Regions from separate parts of the Homo sapiens genome. Here all the other regions are linked to region 5. Evidence: fine-mapped expression QTL. A gene starts in region 5. Each other region holds a variant in brackets. All regions are shown on one strand. Distances are from middle to middle.

What was found. PIP is the estimated chance that this variant, and not a neighbour inherited with it, causes the effect.
Region 1: its variant is fine-mapped to the expression of SMAD3 in neutrophils (BLUEPRINT, PIP 0.95).
Region 2: its variant is fine-mapped to the expression of SMAD3 in whole blood (TOPMed, PIP 0.97).
Region 3: its variant is fine-mapped to the expression of SMAD3 in fibroblasts (GTEx, PIP above 0.99).
Region 4: its variant is fine-mapped to the expression of SMAD3 in whole blood (TOPMed, PIP above 0.99).

What each region holds. Positions count from the first base shown.
Region 1 is chr15:67,174,675-67,179,738 of GRCh38, reverse strand. The region is part of intron 5 of SMAD3 (SMAD family member 3); the gene reads right to left. Among named protein-coding and RNA genes, the nearest start is that of SMAD3-AS1, 30 kb to the right of the region's middle. RefSeq lists an enhancer at 3,637-3,686. The variant A/G (reference allele first, on the strand shown) is at 1,943.
Region 2 is chr15:67,095,585-67,100,766 of GRCh38, reverse strand. The region is part of intron 1 of SMAD3 (SMAD family member 3); the gene reads right to left. Among named protein-coding and RNA genes, the nearest start is that of SMAD3, 33 kb to the right of the region's middle. RefSeq lists enhancers at 2,033-2,534, 3,748-3,797. The variant G/A (reference allele first, on the strand shown) is at 2,135.
Region 3 is chr15:67,106,980-67,112,150 of GRCh38, reverse strand. The region is part of intron 1 of SMAD3 (SMAD family member 3); the gene reads right to left. Among named protein-coding and RNA genes, the nearest start is that of SMAD3-AS1, 37 kb to the left of the region's middle. RefSeq lists a silencer at 4,966-5,171 and an enhancer at 4,163-5,171. The variant C/T (reference allele first, on the strand shown) is at 2,512.
Region 4 is chr15:67,119,190-67,124,189 of GRCh38, reverse strand. All of the region lies in intron 1 of SMAD3 (SMAD family member 3), which reads right to left. Among named protein-coding and RNA genes, the nearest start is that of SMAD3-AS1, 25 kb to the left of the region's middle. RefSeq lists enhancers at 2,816-3,255, 3,234-4,091. The variant C/T (reference allele first, on the strand shown) is at 2,904.
Region 5 is chr15:67,062,585-67,067,584 of GRCh38, reverse strand. SMAD3 (SMAD family member 3) reads right to left here and starts at 1,983. Exons shown (of 9, transcript NM_005902.4): 1 at 1,225-1,983. The coding sequence starts at 1,430. It overlaps SMAD3-DT (SMAD3 divergent transcript), which reads left to right and starts at 3,403. Exons shown (of 6, transcript NR_135686.1): 1 at 3,403-4,469. RefSeq lists silencers at 767-856, 877-936, 1,187-1,236, 1,387-1,546, 1,717-2,206, enhancers at 657-1,425, 2,965-3,735, 4,893-5,000 and a cis regulatory region at 4,959-4,972.

The DNA.
Region 1 (5,064 bases), 110 kb before region 5:
CCTGCTCATCAGACCTTCTGAAGGTGTGTAAAGCCCAAGAGAGAAAAGTCAGAAGCTGTTCTGCCCACTGGAAGGGGTCTGGTTGCCCCTGCAGGACAGAGTGTCCCAATCCCCTTTTGGAGTCTAGGTGCATGATCCTTTCTAAGAGCAAGGAGAACACTATCACGAATGGCGAAGGGGCAGGCCAGTAACACCCCTGCACTCCACACACACCCAGGAAGTGTCAGCTGGAGGATTAGGACACCCTAGGTCAGGTTTTTCAACTTCAGCACTACTGACATCTGGGGCCAGATAATTCTTTGTTGGGTGGGTGGATGGGTGGGAGGGAGGATCTGCAGATTGCAGGATGTTTAGCAGCATCCTGGCCCCTACCCACTAGGTGCTAGTAGTATACATCCATAACACCCTCTCAAGTTGTGGCAATAAAAAAAGGCTGCGGATATTGCCAGATGTCTTCTAGGGGGCAAAACGGCCTCCAGTTGAAAACCATTGCCCTAGATATTTAACTGGATCATGGGGCACAAGCTATAAAGCCATCCTCCAGACAGACTGGAGGTCAATCTTGGCTCAGGCACAGACTAGACATGCAACTGCGAGCAAACCAGCTACACTCTGTGGGCCTCATCCTCTTTACTCTCGGCGCTGTTTCTGGACAGACAGAGATAACTCATGTGAGGTGCAGGGCGCGCATCAAACACTCAGCACATGGTGTTAACAACAATGATAATAGCCCGATTCTGTGAACTTGAAAATAGCCTGGTCCTATCTTGATCACCATCAAGATGGAGAGGCAAAGCATTCTTGTCGTTTTCTCTCTTCCTGGGGTGGAGCAAAGGAAGATAAGGATGAAGGCATCAAAAGTACTTAATGGGGAAGGGAGGAATGACAGGGCCAGGAGCAGCTGCGGCTTGTGCCCTGGCCCCTGAGGTGAGGCTGAGCCACGTCAGCCACGTCTGGCTCTGGCTTTGCTTGATGCTTCAACATTCCAATGAGATAAGCTATATTCTAAACAATGTGGTCACTAAAATGTGAGCTATGTTGATTTGGAAACTTAAAAAAAAAAAATCCAAGTGCAACCCAAGCATTCAGAGTGGTCAAGCAATGTATCAGTGCTGCTGGCCACCACTGCCCAAGCGCAGGCTCTGCTGATCCTGCTGTGTGACCTTGGGGACATGACCTCCTTCTGTAACCTCAGTTTTGTAGTCCGTACAATCACTGTGGTACACTAGAAGACAATAAAGCTACAATAAAGCTGACCACCTAGATCATTCTCTGGCACGGGTCAGCTTGAACATATAGCTTTGACTGGCCCTGACTTACTCAGCAATGTGTAGAACAGAACAGGGTCCTCACCCCAAAATCATAAAGCCCTGCCCAGCATTCTCTGGGTTTAGTCCAGGCAGAAGAGAAAGAGCTAGGCTCCCAGGAACGGCAACCCAGCCCACCATTCAAAAAAAGAAAAAGCTGGCAGGCCACCCATTGTGTCGCATGGTGCTAGAACCATGCTCTGGGGAAGGGTGGGCTTCAAGGACCCTCAGAATCAAAGACAGGCCTGGGGTCATAGGCCGAGAGGCCCTCCCAAGCAGATCTGAGCCCTTATCCAAACAGCCCTGCAACTCACAGACACACACCGGACAGTGTTGTGGAAAACCCCGGACACTAGGAACCTGACACATCATTAAGAAGATGCTTGTTTGAGGGAGCAGTGAAATCAGGCCAGTGGCAAAGTCTGCAGGCTGCCATTTCAGAGAGTGCTGTTTGGACAAGCTGCCCTGTGTTCAGAAGCGGGACTGAGCCAGAGCAGCACCCCAGCCATGCGCTTTCTATTCTCTGCAAACAACTAAAAGCCAGCCGTGATTTCCCTCCTTTCTAGGTCCCTCCCGCCCACCATGCCTCAGCTGCTTCCTCCCAGAACTTGTGCAAGAGGAGTGGCAGACCAGAA[A/G]GTATGGTCACCACCTGTGGGTTCTGCCTTCAATGGCACATTTTTCCTTAACAAAAAAAAAAACAAAAAAACAGACCATATGCAGTGGTTCATACCTGTAATCCCAAGCACTTTGGGAGGCCAAGGCAGGCAGATCACTTGAGGTCAGGATTTCGAGACCAGCCTGGCCAACCTGGCGAAACCCCGTCTCTACTAAAAATACAAAAATTAGCTGGGTGTGGTGACGGGTGCCTGTAATCCCAGCTACTCTGGAGGCTGAGGCAGGAGAATCACTTGAACCCAGGAGGCAGAGGTTGCAGTGAGCCAAGATCACGCCACTGCACTCCAGCCTGGGGGATAGAGCAAGACTCTGCCACACACCAAAAAAAAAAAAACCCAAAACACTAAATATGCCCTCATTTCTTTCCCAAAGTACTTATCCTTACCCTGGTTAGTACCAGAGAAACAAAAAGGACTCTGGAAAGAAGGCGGCTATAAATGGGATAACCATGAGGTTATAGTTACTGCAAAAGCATCCAGTTTGGCTCTGAGCTTCCTAGTAGACAAGACAAAAAGGGAACATGACATGGTCTATGGCTCTGGTTGGTGGATGGGCAATGCTTACTAGTTCCTCAGGGAAAACAAAGTTTGTCCTGGCATTAAATCTTAAAAGAAATCTCTCAGGGGGAGGTGGCAACCCCTCCCCTGACCAATCAATCAACTGATCAAGCAAGCAAGCAAATTAAGATCTGGTTTCAAGGATTTACCAACAAATGCAGAAGCAGTTCTATAGAAGGCTCCTCTAGGAGAATGACTACGGGGGGTAAGGTGACACACCCCATTGAAGAGCAGTTTCACCTCTAGGCTGAGCATTTTGCACAGCTGGGGTGGTAGACGATGGCACGTGCCCACGGCCTTCCCTTCAAACAGCCCTGCTCCTGGCCAGATTTCTGAGTCTGTGCTAATCTCTCCTCCCAGTGCAGAGGTGTTGGAGACGCAGGAACCTCCAGCTCCAGCCTTTGTGGATCCCCCTCCCCCACCAGTGTGGTGTCGGCCAGACTTCTCAAGTGCCATAGGGCACTTAATCCATGGCTGGCCCCCTGCCAGCCTAACGCATTGGCTGGCCTCAGTTTTCAGTCCTGTTCCAAGCTGGCACAGACGTTCCATTATGTTTAAGAAAAAGAAAACAGAATAAAACCCAGAAGGCAACACTTGGATTAAGGGATGCCTATTAAAAACATGTGCAAGAGATTCAAATCCCGTAAAGGAAGAGGTGGGGAGGCAAGGGGGGAAATTAACTTTCTCCTATAAATCGAAAGCAAGGAACGGGCAAAGGCCAGGAGCACTGCTGCTGCAAGACGAAAGGTCAAAACAGAAATGGGCTGGTTTCTGCTGGGCCCACCTCACCTGCGGAAGGCAGCTCTTCCTCAATCTAGGAGATTCCACACTCCAGTTCCCATGTTCCTCATCCACCACTTCTCAGTCCTGCCTGGGTCCTCTGCCTGGACTGCCCATCCCCCTCCTCTGCAGGGACTCGATCTTTAAGGCCCAGCTCACACGGCTGTGAAACACTCCCTCACTGCCTCAGTGCAGAATTAACCTTGTGTCCCAGAAACTGTGTACCTGAGTCTCCTATGCTAGAGGATGAGGTCTCTGTGAGCCCACGCCAGCTGTGTCCCAGCACCCAGGGTACTAATTCCAACCTATGTATCTGCGGACTAAAATACCAAACCAAGCTGCACAGAGACCCCCATGCCCTTTTAGCTTATGACCAGCATACTGCAACCAGGAACAGTGGCAAAGTCTAAAAACCGGGCCCTCAGGAGTATGAAGACAGAGCCGACAGCTGACTTCCTGTCATTATGTTGCCTGCCTGTGATTTCACAAGTGTGGGGAAGACCCTGCCTGTGATTTCACAAGTGTGGGGAAGACCGGAGCCAGAGGCTGCATTGTAAAAGAGCCTTGGGCAGCAGCATGAAGATGCCTGGAACTGGGTTGGGCCTCTGCCCTGGGCCGCCGTCCACACTCAGGGCTGGTGGTCTTCGGGCCGCCCTGCCACCACACCTGTGCTCACACATGGGCACAGGGGCTCATGAAGCAGAGGGGAAGCCGGGCCTGTCAGCGTGGAGTCTCACCCAGAATCCTAACCCTGACTCACGGGGCAACTTGCCCCCGATTCACACCTTCCCAGCAGAGGTGCAACTAGGCCAGTGCAAAGTGGCACCCTGGGGGGAGGGTCCTCCCTTTGGAAGAAATAACCTAAGAATTCTCAACTCTCAGGCAAGGTGCCTGAGGAAGCGTCAGTAGGGAGGGAGAACTATGTCAACAGGAGATGCTGCCTTGGGTCCAAGCTCAAGAAACATCCCATCATCCTAGTCTACACAATCTAGAGGGCAATTCACAGCAAACGACCACCTTTCAGTCTGAAGCACTGCATCCGGCATCAGCCACCTCCAAGCTGCCCTATCCCTCTCACTCCAAGCTGCCCCATCCCTGCCTCTCACTCCTGCCACTGGCACTCTGGAAGCCATCACCTCCTTTAACTCCAGCTCAACTGCTCCCTCAGGGCTCTCCCTGGTACATTATTTTCCTCAGTCATGGCTCCGCCCTAATCATCTCACTTTAAAGCAGGGAACAACTTACTCACCAGGCAGAAGCCAGCTCACTACCTTTTTCCTCTCTCCACCTGCCTCCTCCTTCCCCTCCATTTACCCCAATCCTTCCGCCTTAAATGCCTAGGAAATTCCCGGTGACTCACCCAGCACGCTGTGTAATAACAGGAACATCACCTGCTCATATCTCCTGCCCTGCAAACAACGGTCCCAGGTCCCAGGGTCTCCGAGAGCCTGCCTGGGGCAGGATGCTGAGCCAGGTCTCAACCAGGAGTCCCTGCCCCTTACCAGAAGTGGCTTTGCTGGGGCAAGGAGGCTCAACCTTCCCCAGACCTGAGCCCTGGGGCTAACACCTGGAGTGGGGAGGAAATGAAAGGAGAAACCAGATGTCCTCTGCTTTCTTTCTTTTTGTACAGTAATTTCATAATAATCTCTTTAAAGGAAATAATCAGATGTCCTGAGATGTCCCCATTTTTTCCTAGGAAGAGCTCCCTGTGTGCTTGCCTCCATCCTAGGGTTTGGGACGCACTG
Region 2 (5,182 bases), 33 kb before region 5:
TCTTCTGCCTCAGTGTACACGTAAATGTCCCATTCCTTTCTTTCCTACCCAATACAAACCTATCAGAAACTAAGTCAGTGACATGGACACCATTAGAGGAATACATTTGATTTTAATATATATTAAAATCAATTTATATGTTTATCACAATATATTGATATATTTATCACAATATATCACAGTATATCACAATATATTAATATTGTAATTAATACATTTATTAATACATTAATATATTAATACATGCAGCAAAAATCTACCATGTTAGCCATTTTAATGTGTATAATTTGGTGGCATTGAGTTCATTCACAATATTGTACAACCACCGCAACTATTTTGTTCCAGAACATCCCTCAAGGAAACCCTGTATCCATGAAGCAGTCACTCCCCATTCCCCTCTCCTCCATCCCTGGCAACTACTAATCTGCTTTCTGTCTCTGTGAATTTGCCTATGGGGATACTGCATGGGAATGGAATCATGTGATATGTGGCTTTTGATGTCTGAATTCTTCAACTCAGCACAATGTTTTCAAGATTCACCCATGTTGTGGCACATACTTCATTCCTTTTTTTTTTTTTTTTTTTTAGATGGAGTTTCGCTCTTGTTGCCCAGGCTGGAGTGCAAGGGTGCGATCTCGGCTCACTGCAACCTCTGCCTCCTGGGTTCAAGCAATTCTCCTGCCTCAGCCTCCCAAGTAGCTGGGATTACAGGCATGTGGCACCATGCCCGGCTAATTTTGTATTTTTAGTAGAGATGGGGTTTCACCATGTTGGTCAGGATGGTCTTGAACTCCTGACCTCAAATGACCCACCCACCTTGGTCTCCCAAAGTGCTGGGATTACAGGCGCAAGCCACTGCGCCCGGCCACGTACTTCATTTCTTGGCTCAAAAAATATTCCATTGTAGAGTGGAATATGCTTTTGAATTAATTGCTAAGTAAATCATTCACAGACTGTAGTACTATTATTAGCAACAATTAAATAAGATAATCTATGTAAGGTATGGGGCACGTGGTGTGCAATCAGTTAGCATTCACTTTTCATCATCAACAAAAATTCCTCATAGCACACCTCGCTGGTGGTGGTGTCATCACACCTTACTTGGGAATCAATAGGCTGGAGGTGTCATCCAGATCCCATCTTCTGAGTACATGAATCAAAACATTTCTGCACAAGTATTACATATTCCCCCAGTTCTCCAATGTATGCGGACCTCTGGCGAGTAAACCTTCCTTATGCAGTAACCATTATAAGCTAGCAAAACACTGGAACCCTTCTTCAAGTAATCTTGCCACATGAAATTTACCAAAACAGAAAATCCTTGGGGAGGTGGTGTAATTCTCCATTTTTCAAAATGACTTACAACAGGATTCCTTTAAATGGTTTTCCCAGTAGTCTTAAAACACAATTCAATTTGCATAATCAACATTTCAACAACACACCTTCTCTATAAAATACTATGCAGCTGTCTGAGCTGGGCTCCAACTTTGGAGGACAGTGATGCTTACAAGACATGAGGAATTGATGTCTGCTTTTCCCCATAATCAGCATGCTGAATCCAGAGACAGAAGTCCTTAGTCCTTATCCCACTTTCCAGCCCTGTGACTGTGAACAAGAGCGGCTACTTCTTCTCATGTCAGTGTATTCCCAGGAATGCAGAAGTCACAGCCACTTTCTCTAAGGCTGACACATGAATCAACAGGGCGGCAACCACAGAAAGGAGAATTATCATGGGTACTCACAGAGTTGATCCTCGCTCAGGACATACGCTCTGTCCACAGTTTGGGGCAAAAGTCCACATTTGTGAAGCATTTCAGAACACTGTCCCATCTCCATGGGCTGCCTGACCCTCCTCCACACTGGCCCCCTCAGGAACGGAGTCCACCCTCCCATCCATGTATGCCCTCCCACCGTCCCCAAATCCCCCAGCTGAGCAACAGTGGGCCCTCAGACCCCCGCTGGGGATGCGTAGGACCCTCCATGCCCACTTCCACCTGCCTTCCGGGGGCTGTGGAGGCCTCCACAACCAAAGCAAGCCTCCCCAAGTGTCCTGTGGACAGTTCTCTCCCAACTCCCGAAGCTTGTTTTCTTTAATTAGCTCACTGTGGCAGGAGAAAAACGCGGCCCCACCCTC[G/A]AAATAAGCAGATCTGGGCCTCAAATGTACTCTGTGGTTTGCCTCTGTGCTGCCAAGCTGTTCGCCAGGGAGTGACAGGCTACCGGGGCTGAGGAGGCAGGGGCAGTAAGAAACCCCTGCTATGTTGAGATAGGCCTTTTTCTTCCTAACATCTGACATTCATTTCTCAACCACAAGCTGGGCTGCACCCTTTCCTGAGTCCCTGAAACCTGCGATTGTGGTTCCAATTAGGGGACGATTCCAAATCCTGCTGGCTTGCTTGCTTGCTTGCTCGCTCGCTCTCTCCCTCCCTCCCTCCCTCCCTCCCTCCTTCCTTCTTTTTTAATCTGTCTTGGGTGGTGGGGTGGGGGGGCAGTTTAGGCACAAAGCCCAATCCTCTCATCTCACAGATGATGAACTGAGGCCCAAACAAAGTAACTGCTTCTTGGAGTCTCTCAGGACAGTAGTGAGCAGCACTTAAAGAAACACTGAAGACTCACCGTGTTAGCTCTTCCTAACACCAGTACTTAAGTTTATAAACGATTTCTCCATATGTCATCTCAGCTGGGTCTCATCCTCTAAGGCAGGCACACCCACGAATGCTCCATTTGACAGATGCGTAAACCAAGGCTTAGTAGGGAATGGACAGTCAAAGGTCATGTGACTAAGAGTGACAGTGTGAGAGGACCAGGATCCTTGAAGACCTTCAAACACTACAATTTTTCTTTCATTCCAGTAACTTCTAGAGCACAGCCTGAAGAACTACTTAGAAGTCTGAGGCAGAGGCTCCCTAGAATCGTACTCACAGAATCTTGGAAGTTAGACCTTGAAGGCCAGGATTCCTAGAGGATACTACTTTTGGTCCTAGCACCCACAGGAATTGTTTCTTCCTCCTCCCCTCATTCTTCACCATCATGACCATTGCTAGCATTGATTCAGTCCCATGGACCAGACACAATGATTACTCCTCCCCCTGCTCTCATTTCACGCTCATGACCATGCTATAAGATAATTACCATTATACCCATTTTATAGATGGGTAAACCAAGGCTCCAGGAGGCTTGAACAACCTGCCCAACATCAAACAACTAGTTAAGAGATGGAGATAAGGCCGGGCGCAGTGGCTCACACCTGTAATCCCGGCACTTTGGGAGGCTGAGGCAGGCAGATAGCCTGAGCTCACAAGTTTGAGACTAGCCTGGGGCAACATAGTGAAACTCTGTTTCTACAAAAAACAACAACAAAAAACAACAACAAAAAAAACATGAAAATTAGCCCAGCATAGAGATGTGTGCCTGTAGTCCCAAGCTACTCAGGAGGCTGAGGTGGGAAGATCGCTTGAGCTGGGAGGTCAAGGCTGCAGTGTGCCAATATCATACCACTGCCTTCCAGCCTGAGTGGTGGAGGAAGAACCTGTCCCCTACAAAAACAAAAAACAAACAAACAAAAAAAACCACAAAAAAAGGACAGAGAGATGGAGATAAGATTTGACCCAAGAATTCAGCCTCCAAGTACCCACATTTTTAACAACTACACTGCAACCAAAAGACTGAGGACTGCCTGATGAAGAAATGACTCACCCAAGGAGACCATGCCTGAGTTAAGAGTCAAACTAGGGCCTCTCTCTCAGCTTACTGCTGGATCACCTCTATACTAGGCTGCCCAAAAATTCACAAAAGTAAATGCTCAGGAGACCCCCAAAGCACCTTCAACAAGAGTATGTTTGTAGCCTCTGAAATTCCTCAACTTTTTATCTCTATCAACAGAGCCACCACCACCTGGAAGCTTGGAATCTTCAGAGCAAGCACACATGCTCACTTGCCTATATGATGCTTCTTAGCTCCGCAACCCAGGAGACAATGTGAGCAGACCAGGGATCTAGAGGCTGCACGTGCAAGACCAGCCTGAGACCTCCAGCCCCAGGATGCCAGTCAGGGTTGGCTGCATAATTTGTGGGGCCCAGTGCAAAATGAAAATATGGAACCCTTTGTGCAAAAGGCAAAAAAAAAAAAAGTATCAATCATGGTACTAAAATAGAAAGCTTTTTCTCTTTCCTCCACAGTCTCTCTCTTGATGTGTCATGGTATTTTTAATTTGCTATTTAATATTATTCTAAGTAAAGCAACATTAAAATTTTAAATTACATGAATTAGCATGAATTTTACCACTCCTATTTATATTGTGTGATGCCAGTTTTAACTGCAAATATAAAAAGCCTTTAACTAGTATGTGGAATCACCAACATTACATGAATTGTATTTTAGGACTTGGATGTGCATTTTGTGATGTACCAGAACCAGAGAAACATCCATAAAGCTAACTCAATCGTTTTTACTTCACTTCTCGCTATGTGTCCATTCTACCTCACTCTTTATGCTGCCTGAGGAGTAAGGAAGATCTGAAAGGAAAAGGCAATATGGGTGCCCTATCTTTCCTTTCCCTTCTTCCGTCATCATTTTCAATATAAGTGGTTGGTGTCAGGGAAGTGACGTGAGTAATAAAGGATATGATGGGGTTCTTTGGTCGTTGATGTTTCTTAGAATGTCATCGCCTTCTTTCTACAACCAAGACAAGTTCCAGTTAGATGGAAAGCATCAGGACTGTCAGGGCCCCTGCTACTCAGTCGCAGATGTGACATCTCACACTCACTTTGACTCTCACTCAACTCCCCCACATTGTAGGTCCGGCAGAAGTCTGTGCTCAAATGCTACATGTGAATGGGGCAGAAGGCTCAATGGGCACATGCTGCCCACATCTCCTCTATCCATGCTCATGCTCCAAAACACTAGGTCAAAGAGAAAATTATTAAGAATTTCAAGATGGGCCGGATGCAGTGGTTTACACCTGTAATCCCAGCACTTTGGGAGCCCAAGGCTGGATCACCTGAGGTCAGGAGTTCGAGACCAGCCTCGCCAACATGGTGAAACCCCACGTCTACTAAAAGAAATACAAAAATTAGCTGGGTGTGGTGGCAGGTGCCTGTAATCCCAGCTACTCGGGAGGCTGAAGCAGGAGAATCACTTGAACCCGCAGGCAGAGGTTACAGAGAGCCGATATTGAGCCATTGCA
Region 3 (5,171 bases), 44 kb before region 5:
AGAAAAAAAAAGAAATGGCTAAAGGATTTGTAGATGTTCCTCCAAACAAGATATACAAATGGAAGGCCAGGTGCGGTGGCTATGCCCGTAATCCCAACACTTTGGGAGGCTGAGGCAGGTGGATCATCTGAGGTCAGGAGTTCAAGACCAACCTGGCCATCATGGTGAAACCCTGTCTCTACTAAAAATACAAAAATTAGCCAGGTGTGGTGGCACACACCCGTAATCCCAGTGACTCAGGAGGCTGAGGCAGGAGAATCACTTGAACCCAGGAAGCAGAGGCTGCAGTGAGCCGAGATGGCACCATTGCACTCCAGCCTGGACATCCCAGCAAGACTCAATCTCAAAAACAAACAAACAAAAAACACAAATGCCAAAAAGCACAAGGAGAGATGATCAATATCATTAGCCAATAGGGAAATGCAAATCAAAACTATAATGAGATACCACCTCACATCCACTAGAATGGCTAAAATAAAACAGACAATAACAAGTGTTGACAAGGATGGGGAGAACTGGAACCCTCATACATTGGTGGTGAGACTGTAAAATGGTACAACCACACAACCACTTTGGAAAACAATTTGGCAGTTTCTCAAAAAGGTAAACAAAGCTACCAAATGACCCCATAATTCTACTTCTAGGTATCTACTCAAGATAAATGAAAACACATTTCCACAAAAAAAGCTTGTACACAAATATTCGTAGCAGCATTATTTACAATAGCCAAGAAGTGAAAACAACCCAAATGTCTATCAACTGAAGAAAGGACAAACAAAATGTGGTATATCCATACACTGGAATACTATTTGGCCATAAAAAGGAATGAAGTACTGACACATGCTACAAATGGATGAACCCTGAAAATATGTTAAGTGAAAGAAGTCAAACACAAAAGTCCACAAATTGTATGATTTCATCTACATGAAATGTCCAAAAGAGGCAAATCCAGAGAACCAGAAAGTAGACTAAGTTGCCAGGGCTAAGGGGGATGGGCAGGAAGTGACTGTTAATGGGTATGAGGTTTCTTTTTGTGGTGTTGAAAATGTTCTAAAATTAGATAGTGATGATGGTTGTACAACTCCATTAATACACTAAAAACCACTAAATCATATCCCTTAAAAGAGCAGATTTATGGTGTATGAATTATATGCCAATAAAGCTATTATTTTTCAAAAGGTTTACTGAATAAAGTCTGGACTTGTGTTACTAGTAATGTACCAATGTTGTTTCTGAGTTTTGACATGTGTACCATGGTAATACAAGATGTTAACATTACGGACATCTGGGTCAGGGGTACACTGGAACTTTCTGTATTATCTGTGTACAGTTTTTCTGTGTATCTACGATTATTCCAAAAGGAAGAATTTCTTTAAAGAAAAGATTGGTCATACAGAGCTAACTATTATGTAATGATTTAACTAGGCTTCCATGACTGTGGTGTACCTGCCCACTGGACCATAGCTGCTCAACGGCAGGAGGCCCACTTTGCAACCAGGGTAGCCCACACAGGGCTGGATGTCACAGACACAGAGAGGCAGAACAAGTAACAATGAGCATTTGCATCTGCACGGCAAGGAACGCTCCTCTTCCCTCTTGTATCTTCTTCAAGCCTCACAACAACACTATGAAGTCAATACTGTCACGTAGGGGGAGGGACTACCAAGGTGCTGTCAGCATCCTATCCCCCATCACTCCCAACTCTGTTTATATACATACACTTCTATTTTGTCAAACCCAAGTTCCTCTAAATCCAAATCTTCTGACATATCCCGCTACAGGCTGGGGTCATGGGAAAACTAGGTGGGCAGTTCCTGGCCTTTCCTCCACCAGCAGAGGTGGTGATTCTCCCTCGAATGTTCCAAGAGTCACTGCATCTATATGCCTTGATTTGAGCCACAGATGTCTGTGAGTTTGAGTCGTATCCCCCAAGCAGCACAGAACTCCAAGGGTACAGCCAGTATCCTAATTATTCCTAAACCCCCTGGGTCTTAGACACTCAAGCACAGAATGAATTATTTCATTCACTGACGACCTAGAGGTGTTCAGCAAGCACAGTCACCCTATCCCTAAAGGAAACCTGCTGGTTTCAGGCAGAGAACTCCTAAAAGGCAAACATTCTTCTTGGTCATCTCTTGCCTGCGTGGACATCACTAATGGGCTGGGGTTCTATTTTCTGAGAAGCACTGAGTTGGTTTCCCCCGCTGACGAGCCTGGGAGCTATGGCTTCATGTTATCTGGAGACCCGGGTGGGTGGGAAGTGGGCCGTGGAGGAGGAGCGGGCTGGCACGCTCCACCAGGCTGATGGCAGCCCCTGCTTCCTGTGGGGCCCATGGCCCACTGACATCACTGAGAGGCCGGCGGAGCGTAAGGGGCACGCGGGTGTCGCAACTGCAGGCAGCACGCGGGGTCATGTGAAGTTCAGCTCTGGGGTTTTCTCAGTCCATTGGGTTTTACTCATCCCTTGTCCATTAAGTGTGTTTCCCCCTCTCGCTTTTCCTTCTTTGTGTG[C/T]GTGTGTGTTTTAATTATTCCATGGCTCTTGGCTTGCTTTCATAACCTCACATTAACATTTCTCATTGCTACTGAGAAACAAGGCATTCCACCCACTAGAATGCAAAGACACCAGAGAGAATTCCAGCTCTGTGCAGGAACCCCTGGGGAGAGGGTCAGTATCCAATCACCAAAGAGGAGGATGTAAGACTTACATGCAGCATGGGGTACTAGCCTCTCAGGCCACGAGGTCCACTCTGACCTTCTACCCATTTTACAGATGAGGGCCACAAGTCCCAGAGGGTTAAAGTGACTTGCACAAGGTCACCCAGCTTCAATCAGGGCAAAATGACTCAATTTTTCAAAACTGCTATCACAAAGCATTTTTCAGTGCATGGCAAGCATTCCACACAAAAAGCATTTGCACACACAAAGAACTTACAATGAAAATTATGTCTTACAAGTTAACAAGCCATGAGAATGTTCTAATCATCAAGCATTAAAAATACCCAAATGCATATTCATCCCATGCATTCTTCGACAAGTATTTGTGAAGTGACCATGCTTTATCAGGCACCGTGCTAGGTGCTAGACTCCAGAGACACGAAGACGAATAATAACTGGTCTTCGTCAACAAGAACTCAATTGTGAGACAAAAGCCAACTTGAGGAAAATTAAGCCTATTTCAAACATGCCTTGATCTGTGTAACATTCATAATACATAATATCTTCTTTGATCTCCACAGTTTTCTCTCTACCTCCAGATCAGTGCAATCTCTGGTTTTCCACTTTTTTTTTTCTTTCCAAATGAAAATAGAGCACAACTGTCATTTTCAATCTACTAAGTCATAAACCACAAGGCAGGCTGCAAGGACCAAATGCTCCGTTTTAGAACGAGCCCAGTGCAGAGAACAGAGTCCACACCACAAGGCAGGGAGCTGTGGTCCAGATGAGTGACATGCCCTTAGTGACCTGGGTCCTGGCCTCCGACCCAGAGACCAGTCCCATGGAGCCCCTGTCCTTGAGGGCTCACTGCCTGGGACTGTGAGAAGAATAACCCAGAAACCAATGATTTCAACATATCGTGGTGTGTGTCAGACCTAGGCATGCTCAGCAGCTGGGGGGACACATTTGCAGTGGCCAGGAGGAGGGGGCATCTGAAGGCTGCTTCCTGGAGATCAAGATGGGACTACGTTTTGGAGGAAGTAAGTTGAATAGGCTTGGGACATTCCAGGCTGGTATGGGCAAAGCAAGGAGGCAAGAAATGGCTTGGCACAGGGTGGGGAGGCAAGCAGGCTTCTAGTATCATCAGAGTGGGGATTCTCAACCTTTTTGGGCAAAGCATGGTCATTTTCAATTCCAGTGATTTTCACAGACCTCTCCCATGGTGGCAGTTGTACTTGAAATCAGTCACTCCACAAATGCGTAATCCCTGCCCATTTACAGCAATAATACAACCGCACAGAGTCTGCAGCTGCCAGGTTGGAAAGCTTCTTACCGGAGCCCCCGAGGGCAAGGCCAAGTGAGAGGAGATGGAGGACGCTGTGCAGACCCCAAGGGACAAGGCGAGTTATCCCCGAAGCACTAGGAACCACTGGACGGAAGGGTTCTAACCAGGGAGGTGCTGAAGCAAGATCTGTCCTTTAGAAAGATCACCCTGGGCACAGCGCGGGAGGTGGTGGGGGGGTGGGGGGGAGAGGAGAGCAGATCCAGGGAGGCTGCTCGGGGAGATGACCTGGAGGCCCAGTCACCTAGGTGAGGGAGGATGACTTTCCACACCAGATGTCAGTATCACAGAAGCCTCAAGCCTCAGATAATCCTCCCTTCCAAAACCTAAAACAAACCCAAAATTCCCCACTCAATTTCAACAATAGTCAAAATCAAATGGCTCCTCCTCTATCAGGCCATATCCCTATGGAAGGGAAGGGTGAGGCTTTGGGGTGGGTGAGGGCAACAGTATGGGGCAGGGAAGGGAAGTGGAGGGACAGAGGGAGGCCCTGTCCATGCAATAACCACAGCGACAGGCAGTGACTTAGGCTGGGCAAACCAAGTGACCGTGGCAAGGCTCAGAGAGGCGGGAAGGGCCGGGGGAAGCCCCTCTCCCATCAGAAATTACTCGCAGCCGAATGACGGACTTCATCTGTCTCTGCCTGCAGGTGACCACAGACTGCATCAGGAGGGCAGGAGGGCAGGAGGGCATGGCAACAAGGCTCTCCCCTTGTCTGGCACCCCAGAAAGCAGAGCTGAGAAATCTCACCCTGGGAAGAAGGGTGGGGTGCTTATGTGGTGGGAGTGGCGCAGCAGGTGGGAAGATTTCGAGGCTCTGAAAGGCCCACTCCCCTCCACCCAGATAAAGCTACTTCTCTCTTGGTTTCCTTGGGGCTATCACAGTCACTGTGCCTGAAATTCCCACCATTTGTCATTCCTTTGGCATCCAAGGCCCAATGACTGACTACACTAAAATCTTCAGTTAAAGCATGACTCATTAAAATCTTTTTTTTTTTTTTAATGCACTCAGTAAACATTTATTGAGGGCTTGACTGTTCCAGGTACTGTGCTGAGCCCTGGGTGGGAGAGAGGGTGATGACTAAGGCTTGGGAAGTCAGGGCTAGGGAAGCCGACAGAAGCCAAGTCGTGCAGACGGGGCCCTGTGAACTCAGCTAAGGAGACTGGACTCCACT
Region 4 (5,000 bases), 57 kb before region 5:
TAGCAAGACCTCTTCTCAACAGAAAAATACAAAAATTAGCCAGACGTGGTGGCCTGCTTCTGTAGTCCCAGCTAATCAGGAGGTCAAGGCTAGAGGATCATTTGAGCCCAGGAGTTTGAGGCTGCAGTAAGCTATCATTGCACCACGGCACTCCAGCCTGGGTGACAGAGGGAGACTCTGTCTAAAAATAAGAGACGAAAATCCAAAGGAACAAAAGCTTCTAAATAAAATCGACAACAACCTATTTTCCAGTGATTTGTTTCAGTCTATTCTACAGCATATCCGAAAGTTGGAAAGCAGGACACACTATTTTCCCTTTGTTTCCAGGCTTTTTGGATACTCTGGGATGTTTTATTATAGCTTTTCAGGTTAGCAGTTGAACCCACTGCTTTAAATGTAGAGGTCCTTCACCTAAAAAGAAGGCAAAGGGTTGCAGAAAAACATTGAGTATATTCTTTGGAAATGTCAAAAAAAGACTATTTCAAAATAAGTTTGTCCGTCTCCCAATTTTGGGGCATCCCGTCTATCTGAGTGCCTCCTATGTACTGGATTCTATACTGTAAAATTAGAATGCTGGCTGAAGGTGATGATAAGCTCATAATATTAATGGCTACTATTTACTAACACTTGTAATATGCTAGGAATTGCAGTCAATCTCAAACATGTTAGAATTCTTTTTTCCTTTTTTTTGAGACGGAGTTTTGCTCTTGTTGCCCAAGCTGGAGTGCGATGGCACAATCTTGGCTCACTGCAAACTCCTCCTCCTGGGTTCAAGCGATTCTCCTGCCTTAGCCTCCCGAGTAGCTGGGATTACGGGCGTGTGCCACCACACCTGACTAATTTTTTGTATTTTCAGTAGAAACGGAATTTCACCATGTTTTAGCTAGGCTGGTCTCAAACTCCTGACCTCAGGTGATCCACCCGCCTCGGCCTCCCAAAGTGCTGGGATTACAGGTGTGAGCCACTGCGCCTGGCTGATTTTTTTTTTTTTTTTTTTTTTTGAGACAGGGTCTCACTCTGTTGCCCAGGCTAGAGTACAGTGGCGAGTTCACTGCAGACTTTAACTCCTGGCTCAAGCAACCTTACACTGCAGCCTCCCGAGTAGCTGAGACCACAGGCTCACACCACCATGCCCAGCTAATATTTTTAATTTTTTGTAGAGATGAGATCTTGTTATGTTCTTGTTATGCTGGCCAGTCTGGTCTCAAACTTCTGGCCTCAAGCGATCCTCCCACCTCAGCCTCCCAAAGTACTGGGATTACAGGCATGAGCCACCATGCCCGGACGCAAGTATTTAAAACAAATTCACTGAGATATTTTATCCCTGTTTTACAGATGAAGAAACTGAGGACTTAGAATGTTTAAGTCCTTGTCTGAAGTCCCATAACTTACAAGTGGTGGGGCCAGGATTTGAACCCTGGTCTGTAGGATCCCAAAGCCCTATTCCTTACCACCCTACATAGGGACCACAGGGAACATCATTGCTCTGTGAAAAAAACCTATCCTTGTCTATGGAGTGATTACTTTCCTAAGAAAGTCAGGTAAGTCCTGGCTTGAAAACAAGTTTAAGAGCCAGCTCAGCTCTTAGCTAGATGCAAGACCCTCAGCATCCCCTCACCTCTCTGGACCTCAGTATTTTGGGCAATGAAACTAGTATATCATTTCCTGTGACCTCTTTTGGCTCTAACAAATGGCCAAAAAACCCAAGAGATCACCAGCTCCATAAATCCCCCGATAGGAAATGGGCCAAAGGATTACCGTACGGAAAGCAGTCCTGACTTGCTCATTCCCAAACTCTGGTGAGGAAACCAAGAGAAACCAGCCACCACCCACAGCTGACAGGGTCTGGGGGGAACAGCAAAAGAGCTGACCCGCACAGTACCCCCAGGCTAACTGAAGAGTCCCTGAAGCCTACAGATCAATTTCTCTTTTCTAAGAAGGAAAGGGGAGTATAACCTTCAGTTTCCTCATGTGTAAAATGAAAAGGTTTCATCTGTTCATTCTTCTAAGTGGTCAACTTAACCTCTGTAGGACTCAGCTTCCTCATCTACAAAATGGGGACATATGTCCGGACCTTAGACCAGTGCTACCCAATAGAATTTTTGGTGGTGATGAAAACGTGCTGCTCTATATGAGCTGATCTGATGGCCACTAGCCTACCCGTGCACTTGAAATGCGGCTGGTGTGACTGAGGGACAGCATTTGTAATTGTATTTAATTTTAATGACCCAACATTTAAATAGCCACATGAGGGTGGTGGATAGGTATCGGACAATATAGCCTTAGACTGTAGTGGCAGGAATGAAATCAGATGGCATTTGTAAACTGCCTAGCACAGTGGTGGGACACAAAGTTCTGGAGGAAAAACATGCATGAATATGCAGAGGTCCTATCAGTAGAGATTTTTTTTTAAGCAAAATTTCCTCATATCAAGAAATGGAGGCACTAGAAGCTGACAAGCACATACATGGATGTGTTAGAAAGACCCAGAGAAATCAGGCATACTGTAGAAACCATTCTCTCGGTGTATAGACTAAATGGCTGAAGGTCTGTTTTGTTTTCTTCACAAATGTTCTTGTCAGAAGATAAAAGAGAGCCGTTTTCAGCAAATCTAGGTTTTTATAACCCTAAACGCCCAGTACAAACTGCCCCAAGAGCAAGCTCTCTCTTCAACAAAACCTCCCGTCCTCCCAGGCAGCCACCCCCCGCCCATCTGCAGCCCTCCCCGGGGCCTCTGGGAGCTGCCCACCCAGAACGGAGTGCAACTGACATGTGGGGCACACCCTGCCAGGCACAGTCACTCGTGGGGGGAGAGCCACCCACGATGCCCTCAGGACCCACAAGGCCGGCTGGCAGTGGCCTGTGTCAGGAGTGCCCACCGGCACCCGCTGGCAGCCAGCCTG[C/T]GTCACAGCCCAACAGGAAACGAGGAGAAGAGAACACTGGGGCCGCGTGGAAATCCCCACTGGGCTCCACGCCGGAGGGTGACTCAGCGGGGCTGGCCAGCAAGCTGCCTCCCACCCCTCAGCCAGGACAGGGCGGGGGCTGCAGGAAACAGGCCTCCCGCCTCTCTGCAAAGGCTAAGAAGTACACATTCTTACATATTATTATGTTACAGATACAATCATGCCCTGCCTGAAAACATGCAAGACAAAGTCCCAACATATGAGATGGGGATTCAAGGTCCTTTTATAACAGAAAACGCACTTTCTCTAAGCAGGGGTGTCCGGTGTTTTGGCTTCCCTGGGCCACGATGGAAGAGTCGTCATCTTGGGCCACACATAAAATACGCTAACTAACGATAGCTGATGAGCTAAAAAATAATCGCAAAAAAAAAATCTTACAATGTTTTCAGAAAGTTTATGAATTTGTGTTGGGCTGCATTCAAAGCTCTCCTGGGCTACATGCGGCCCACGGGCCAGAGGGTGGACAAGCTTGCTCTAAAGGAAAGTCTTAGTTCAAGTCCTGGAGCAGCCATGAAGCTTGAAAAATTCCCTTCCCAATTTCCCAGGCCCAATTTCTTACCTGGTAGGGCCAGGGTGAGATTCCCACACTCTCCACGGAGTGTTCCCAGGCAACACCATTGCACAGTGCCTCTGCCCTCCTCGCAGCTAGCCCATCTGCCCTTCTAGACCACCCCACAGCACTTAGCAGTCTTAGATTATGGCGTTCATCATCCTAAACACAGACATTTTACCAGGCCTCCCACTCAGATACTGTCACCAGGACAGAGGCCATGCCTTACATCTCCAAAGTGAGTTTGATACATACAGGGGGTTTTAAAAATTATCCATCTATTGATCCAAAGAAACAGCATGGCATGTGTATAAGACTTGTTATCCTTGATACCCCTCCCCAACTCCAGGTCATGGCAGGGCTGCCTGAGCTGCCACAGGCTCTTATCACCTCTGTTCCCCACATCACGTTAAGCAGCCCAGGGCAAAGTCTGTCCCACACTGTTCCTCTTTTTCCCATAAAGTACCCAGTGTACTCCAGGGACTTACGGCTAGCAAAAGAAACAACAAGCAAGAAAGTGGGGAGGTCCTAGAAATCCACTCCTAGTGAGTTGCAAGAGGCTTACTAAACCCAGAGTCTTGGCCAGGGACAGTGGCTCACGCCTTTAATCCCAGCACTTTGGGAGGCCAAGGTGGGCAGATCGCTTGAGCTCAGGAGTTTGAGACCAGCCTGGGCAACACGGTGAAACCCCACCTCCACAAAATATACAAAAAATAGCCAGGCGTGGTAGCGTGTGCCTATAATCCCAGCTACCTGAGGGGCTGAGGCAGGAGGATTGCTTGAGCCTGGGAGGTCAAGGCTGCAGTGAGCTGTGATCGCACCACTGCACTCCAGCTTGGGTGACAAAGCGAGACTCTGTCTCCAAAAAAAAAATTCAAAGTCTTTACCCCTTGAAGTTACTAGAAAAATCCAACCTATGTTATTTCACTTTAAAAATATCAACTTGCTATGACTTTTTCCTTTCAGAAGCTCTCTTGGGCAATTCTACCTTTGGACTATAAGCTTCTTACAAAATAATTCATTTTTCCCATTCCCGAGTGTGTGCGGGTCTGAATTTTATGAATGTCTTTGGCAAGTCTGAGATAATTCAGCCAGGGTTCCATCCATCTGCTTCATAGACAGTTCCACTCACTTGGCCTCTGAAAGCACTCCATGCGCTCCCCACCCACGGTCAGCCCTTACCCAGGTCCCTCTCTGGCTCCCACTCTGTGGCACCCCCACCCCCGCCATGGCCCCAGCACAGCTGTGTGGCAAGAATAACCCAGCTCTCTGTGTCTACTGCCCACCTCCCATTGACTATGGGCCTCCCTGCAATGGGCTTCAGCCCCAACACTCCATCATGACTGCCCTTGCTAAGGTCACCTAGTGGCCTCCAGGTTACAGAATCTAAAACACATGGTTTTCAGGCCTTACCATTCTGGGTTCTCTGCAACATCTAGCACTGCTGCTCCTTTCCTCTTGCTGCAGGGTCTCGTCACTCACCTTCA
Region 5 (5,000 bases):
CAAGCAGGTGGCCAAGGATGGAGTCCACCCTGGCCCAGGAGCAGGGATGACAATCCCTTTGCGGCTGACAGTCCCTGGTGCTTTCTACTCATTCCTCGGCAGCCTGGGACCCCCAAAAGAGCCAGCCCCCAACACACACGCTCTCTCCCTTGGTTCAGCATCAAAGGAGGCTGAGAGGTAGAGACAGGAAGCCAAGGTACCCGCACCCCCAGTTCCCAGCCAGGCACATCTAAGCTAAGGAAGGCCCTGGGGGAGTGAAGTCACTGACCCCTTCTATCAGCCATCTGTGGGCTCCCGCCCGACCTAGCTAGCGCGCAACGGGAAGGATAAAGGAGATCCAGACAGATGGCAGCGCGCTTTGGGAAGGAAGGCTCTACAGGAATGCGAGGGCCGATGCGAGGCCCACTTTGGGGTGTGTTTTGTTATCTGCCCGGCTGCAGCCTGCCCCTCTCCCTCGTTCTGCACGGTTTCAAAATCTCTTGGACCAAAAGAAGGGCAAAAGAGTCGGGATGGGGGGGTGGGAGGTGGGAGAAGACCCTATTTTCCGCCACTTGTCTCTCCCATTTGGAAGTCAGAGCATTGCACTGCAACCAAAGTGCGTGCATGCTCAGGGGGCGGGAGACTGGCACAACCGAGTCTAAAAATACTCGATAAAAATGCTAATCCCGAAGGCAAAGAAAGAACGAAGAAGGAATCTGTCAATCACTAGGCTCCCGCTCCTCACCCACAGCCCCAGCTGTACGGACCGCATTCCTGTAGAGGAAAGTGGGGAGACCCGACTGAAGAAAAGAAACGCAAAGACACCACCACCTCCACGAGCGCGGGCCGCGGGGGCGGGAGGCGGCGGCGGAGGAGGGGCTCCGGCCCGCGGAGCCGAACAAAGCGGGCCTCAACTTCCAGCCCCAGCTCCCCGGAGTGGGGGCGGCCGAGTCCCGCAGCAACCCGCTCTCCCCTCCCGGAGGTGGAAAGGGAATGTGAGGTGTGGAAGCCAGAGTGCCGCGTGGAAGCCTCGGGCTCTGATCTTTGCAAATCAGAGATGGTTTTGTTTGGGGTCCCCCCACCCCCTTCCTGCCCGCGCTCTCCCACTCTCACACACACGCACCCACACAGTCTCACTCCCTCCCTCTCTCTCCCTCTTCCCATCTCCAGCCCCACTGGGTCGGCCCCGCAGTGCCAGGGGGCTGGGCCGGCGTGACCCCGGGTCCCCCCCGGGCGGGCCCCCACCTGGGGATGGTGATGCACTTGGTGTTGACGTTCTGCGTGGTGATGGCCTTCTCCAGCTCGTCCAGCTGCCCCGTCTTCTTGAGTTTCTTGACCAGGCTCTTGACCGCCTTCTCGCACCATTTCTCCTCCTGCCCGTTCTGCTCGCCCTTCTTCCAGCCCAGCAGGCGCTTCACGATCGGGGGAGTGAAAGGCAGGATGGACGACATGGCTGGGGAGGGCGCGCGGGCGGCGAGGAGCGCCCCCGGCGGGGCTGGGCTCGACGGGACGCCGGGGGCGCAGAGGGGAGCTCGGCCGGGGCCTGCCGCGGTCGCCCAAACTTCGCCTCAACTCTCGGCGAAGTTGCCGGGGCGCCGGGCCGGGCCGCGGCGCTGCAGCCTGCGGGGCTCGGCGCGCGGCCCTGCGCCCGGAGCGGCTCCCACGGCGAAGAGAAGAGCGGCCGGGCGGGCGGACGGCAGCAGTGCAGGGTCGGGAAGGCCCCGAACGCGGGGCGGAGGCGGCGGCCGCGAGACTCCAAGTGGCAGCAGAAGTTTGGGTTTCCGCACGGGGTAGCTGTTTGGGTGCCGCCTCCGGGAAGGAAAGTCCAACCCCCGGCCAAACTTCGCTCGCCTCGCTAGCTTTGATGCGCAGATCCCTCCGCCTCTGCGGCCTCACCGCCCCGCCACCCTCCTCCTCCCGGCTCGCCGCTCGCTCGCTCGCTGGCTGGGCCGGCCCGGGGCGTGCGCCGCGCTCCCGCTCCCGCCCGCTCCCAGTCTGTGTTTCATGCAAATCCGCGTGCAGCCTCCTTTCCAAGTGCTGTCACCGCCCCCTCGCCGCCGGGGCTCCCCGCCTCCTCCCCCGCGCCCCGCCACCTCCTCCCGCGGGCGCCCTGCCCGCCCCCTGCTCCGGGGAGGGCGCCCGGCCGGCCACCACCCCGCGCCCAGCACGCCCACGTGGGCGACCCGGGCGGCGGCAGTCCTGGCTGGAGCGCGCGGGACCCTGCGCGGCCCCGACCTGAAGTCGGGCGGGCGCGGGGAGGAAGTCCTGGGAAACACGGCGAGAGGGGCCTCGGGCGGGAGGGCTGAGCGCGGCCCGTGGCGTCCGCTCTCGGAGTCCACACTCGGGCGGCTCGGTTGGAGTTGCGGGCCGGAGAGGGTTGGACTCGCAGCAAGTAAGCGTCGTCCGGACGCGAGTGCACCCTGGAGAGGACCCGAGCCCGAGAGGGGGCGCGCGGAAGGCCCGGGCCCAGGAAGTTGGGGCCCGCACTTGGCCTCGCGCTTGCTGATCCCCGTCAAGGCCCTTGGCCGGCGCCGGCGCCCCTGGGCTGTTTTTATTCTCTAGTCGGTGAGATCACACCGGCCGAGAGCCTCGGGAACGTGTGCGGAGGAGGAGGGGGTGAGAAGTGGGTCCTCAGAAGTGGAGAGCTGGGGACACCAGTGACAACCTGGACAATGGCTGGAGCCAGGGGTCTCTTGAGCCTTGTGAACCGAGTGCCCGGCAGAAAATGAGCCTCAAGGACATCTGTTGAGTTCTTGAAGGAATGAATGGAGGGGCTTTCGAATTTATCTTTGAAAGAAATTTACATAACAGGGTGTTTGTTGCTGGATCTCCTGATAGAGAAGGATCGGAAATTTGATAATTGCCAATAAATGGAAGAGAGTTTTGTTTCCAAAGCAATGAACTCACAAAAAAGTGGGGCAAGACAGGAGTTTTCGGAGAGTTTGTGTATTCAAAAAAAGCAAAACAACAACAAACCAATTGGCACATTGGGGAGCTCCGCGGCTTTTCTCCCCACCAAAAGAATTCAGGGGCGTCTGCCCGCAGGGCCCTCGGCGGTTTTCAGGAGCTACTCCAGGCCCCTCGGCCTTTCTCTTGCTGCCTCCCGCAGCCGACTAGCCGGTGTCTAAGCCCTTTGTTTGTTTTTAACAGCAGGAATCTCCCACCCCCACCCCTGCTTTGTTAAAAAAAAAAAGTTATCTGGAACCCTCAAGTGGGTGGGGAGTTACAAAGCCCTGTGAGGTGTGGCGGAATCCACAGTCAGCCCAGAAGCGGCAGGGGCCCTTGCCTTGCTCCGGAGAACCGCCTCCCACAAGCCAATCCGCAGCTGCTGCTGCAGAAGTGCGCTGTGCTCCTCACCCTCCTCTCTTCCTAAATACCCGCCTGAAAAGGAGAATACGTGAAAGCCAACTGAGGCTTGACAACCTGGCTTCCGTTCCTTGCTGGTCCTCCTGTTAACGCGCTGCCGCTGTGGTCTTAGGTTTCACTCTCCTCTTCCCGTCCGTCAAGAGAGACAAGGATGACACAATCCACATTTATTGATTGCTTTCTTCATTCCGGGTAGTCCGCCTGCTGCCCTTTGATTCAGTCTTAACAGTGGTTGGTGAGGTAGATGTTCCTGTGCCTCACGTTTACGGAGGCACAGAGAGATTACATTACTTACTCAGGGTTCCAAGTGGCAGAGCTGGAATTTGAACCCAATACTTTGTTGAAGCCTCAGTCTCCGATCTTGAGACTGCACCCAGCTGCCTGGGTCACGGAAGGCAAAGATGACATCATTGATCGAGCTCTTTGCAAAACAGTTCTCTACACGGGCACACTGTTGTAACACTGCAAGGATTATTTGCTCACCTGTAAAATGGGGCTAGAGGTAGCTTCCCTCGCGATCTCCTAGGGTGGCTGTGGGAAGCTCATGTGAAAAGGTTTGCATTGCTAATGCCATGAAAAGTGGTGGAGGGAGGTCAAATAAGTTTAACACACATTGACGGAGCAGCTCTGAGTTGCAGCCCTCCTATTCAGTTCCTGAACTTCCAAAATAAAAGACTAAGGTTTTCAAGGCGTTCACAGCCTAGAGAAGCATCAAAGGGTGGGGATGAGGATGATGTGACTGAGTGGGCAAAGATGGGCAGGGGCCTTGCAGTCATCATCGTCCAGTAAAGTGTTAATCTTAACCTGAACAAGTCCAACCATTGAGAGGTAGCCAAAGAAAGTAAGAGGGGCTCAGGATCCATCAGTGACTGGCCTGGCTTCCAATCCCGGCTCTTTCTCTTCTTCCCCTTGGGCAGCGTCCGTTCTCTCCGCTGTAAGAATGGAGCAAGCGGTTCTCACTGTGCAGAGTGGTGGATCCAGAAAGAGCATTGTAACTGTCCTCCTGTAGTTCAAGTCCTTTATGTTACAGAGAGAGCAATGTCTGCTGAAGGAGAGTGATTTGCACTGTAGAGGAAGAGCGTCAGAGAGATTTGAGGATTACATGTAGTAGAAGGACCTGACAGGTACTTCACCCTGTAAAATCATGGTATGGGAAGGGGCCCTCATTCAGCCCTCTCATTTTCCTGAGGGGAGGAAATAACTAGGCAGCCAGCTAGTTAGTGTGGCAGAACCATGCTTCCCTGCTGGCATCCGTGTGACAAGAACAGCTGTGCATGCAGAAAAATAGTGCTGGACCCACCTACAAGTCTAATAAGTGCCATTTCTGGGCTAGTTCTTTCTCCTCAGGCCTGTTTCTCCAAGAGAAGTCCCTCCACTGGGGGACTAAGTCCAGTTTCAGAAAGCTCTGAGGAGGGCTGAGGAACTGATTCTTCCAGTGCTGAGAAGACCCTGCATGTTCTCTTGATCTTGACTTTGGGCAGTGAATGGGTGGGCTGCTCTGGATGGGTACAACTCTGTTCTGGCACCTGGTCTTTTGGGGCCCAGCCATACCTGCTTTTGCAGAGGTTGTCCTTGGGAGGGAAACATTAGCCCAGTTAATTTTTCACCATGGTAAGTGCAAAGTTCAGGAGAGGTGGGATGGAAGTGGAGACAGC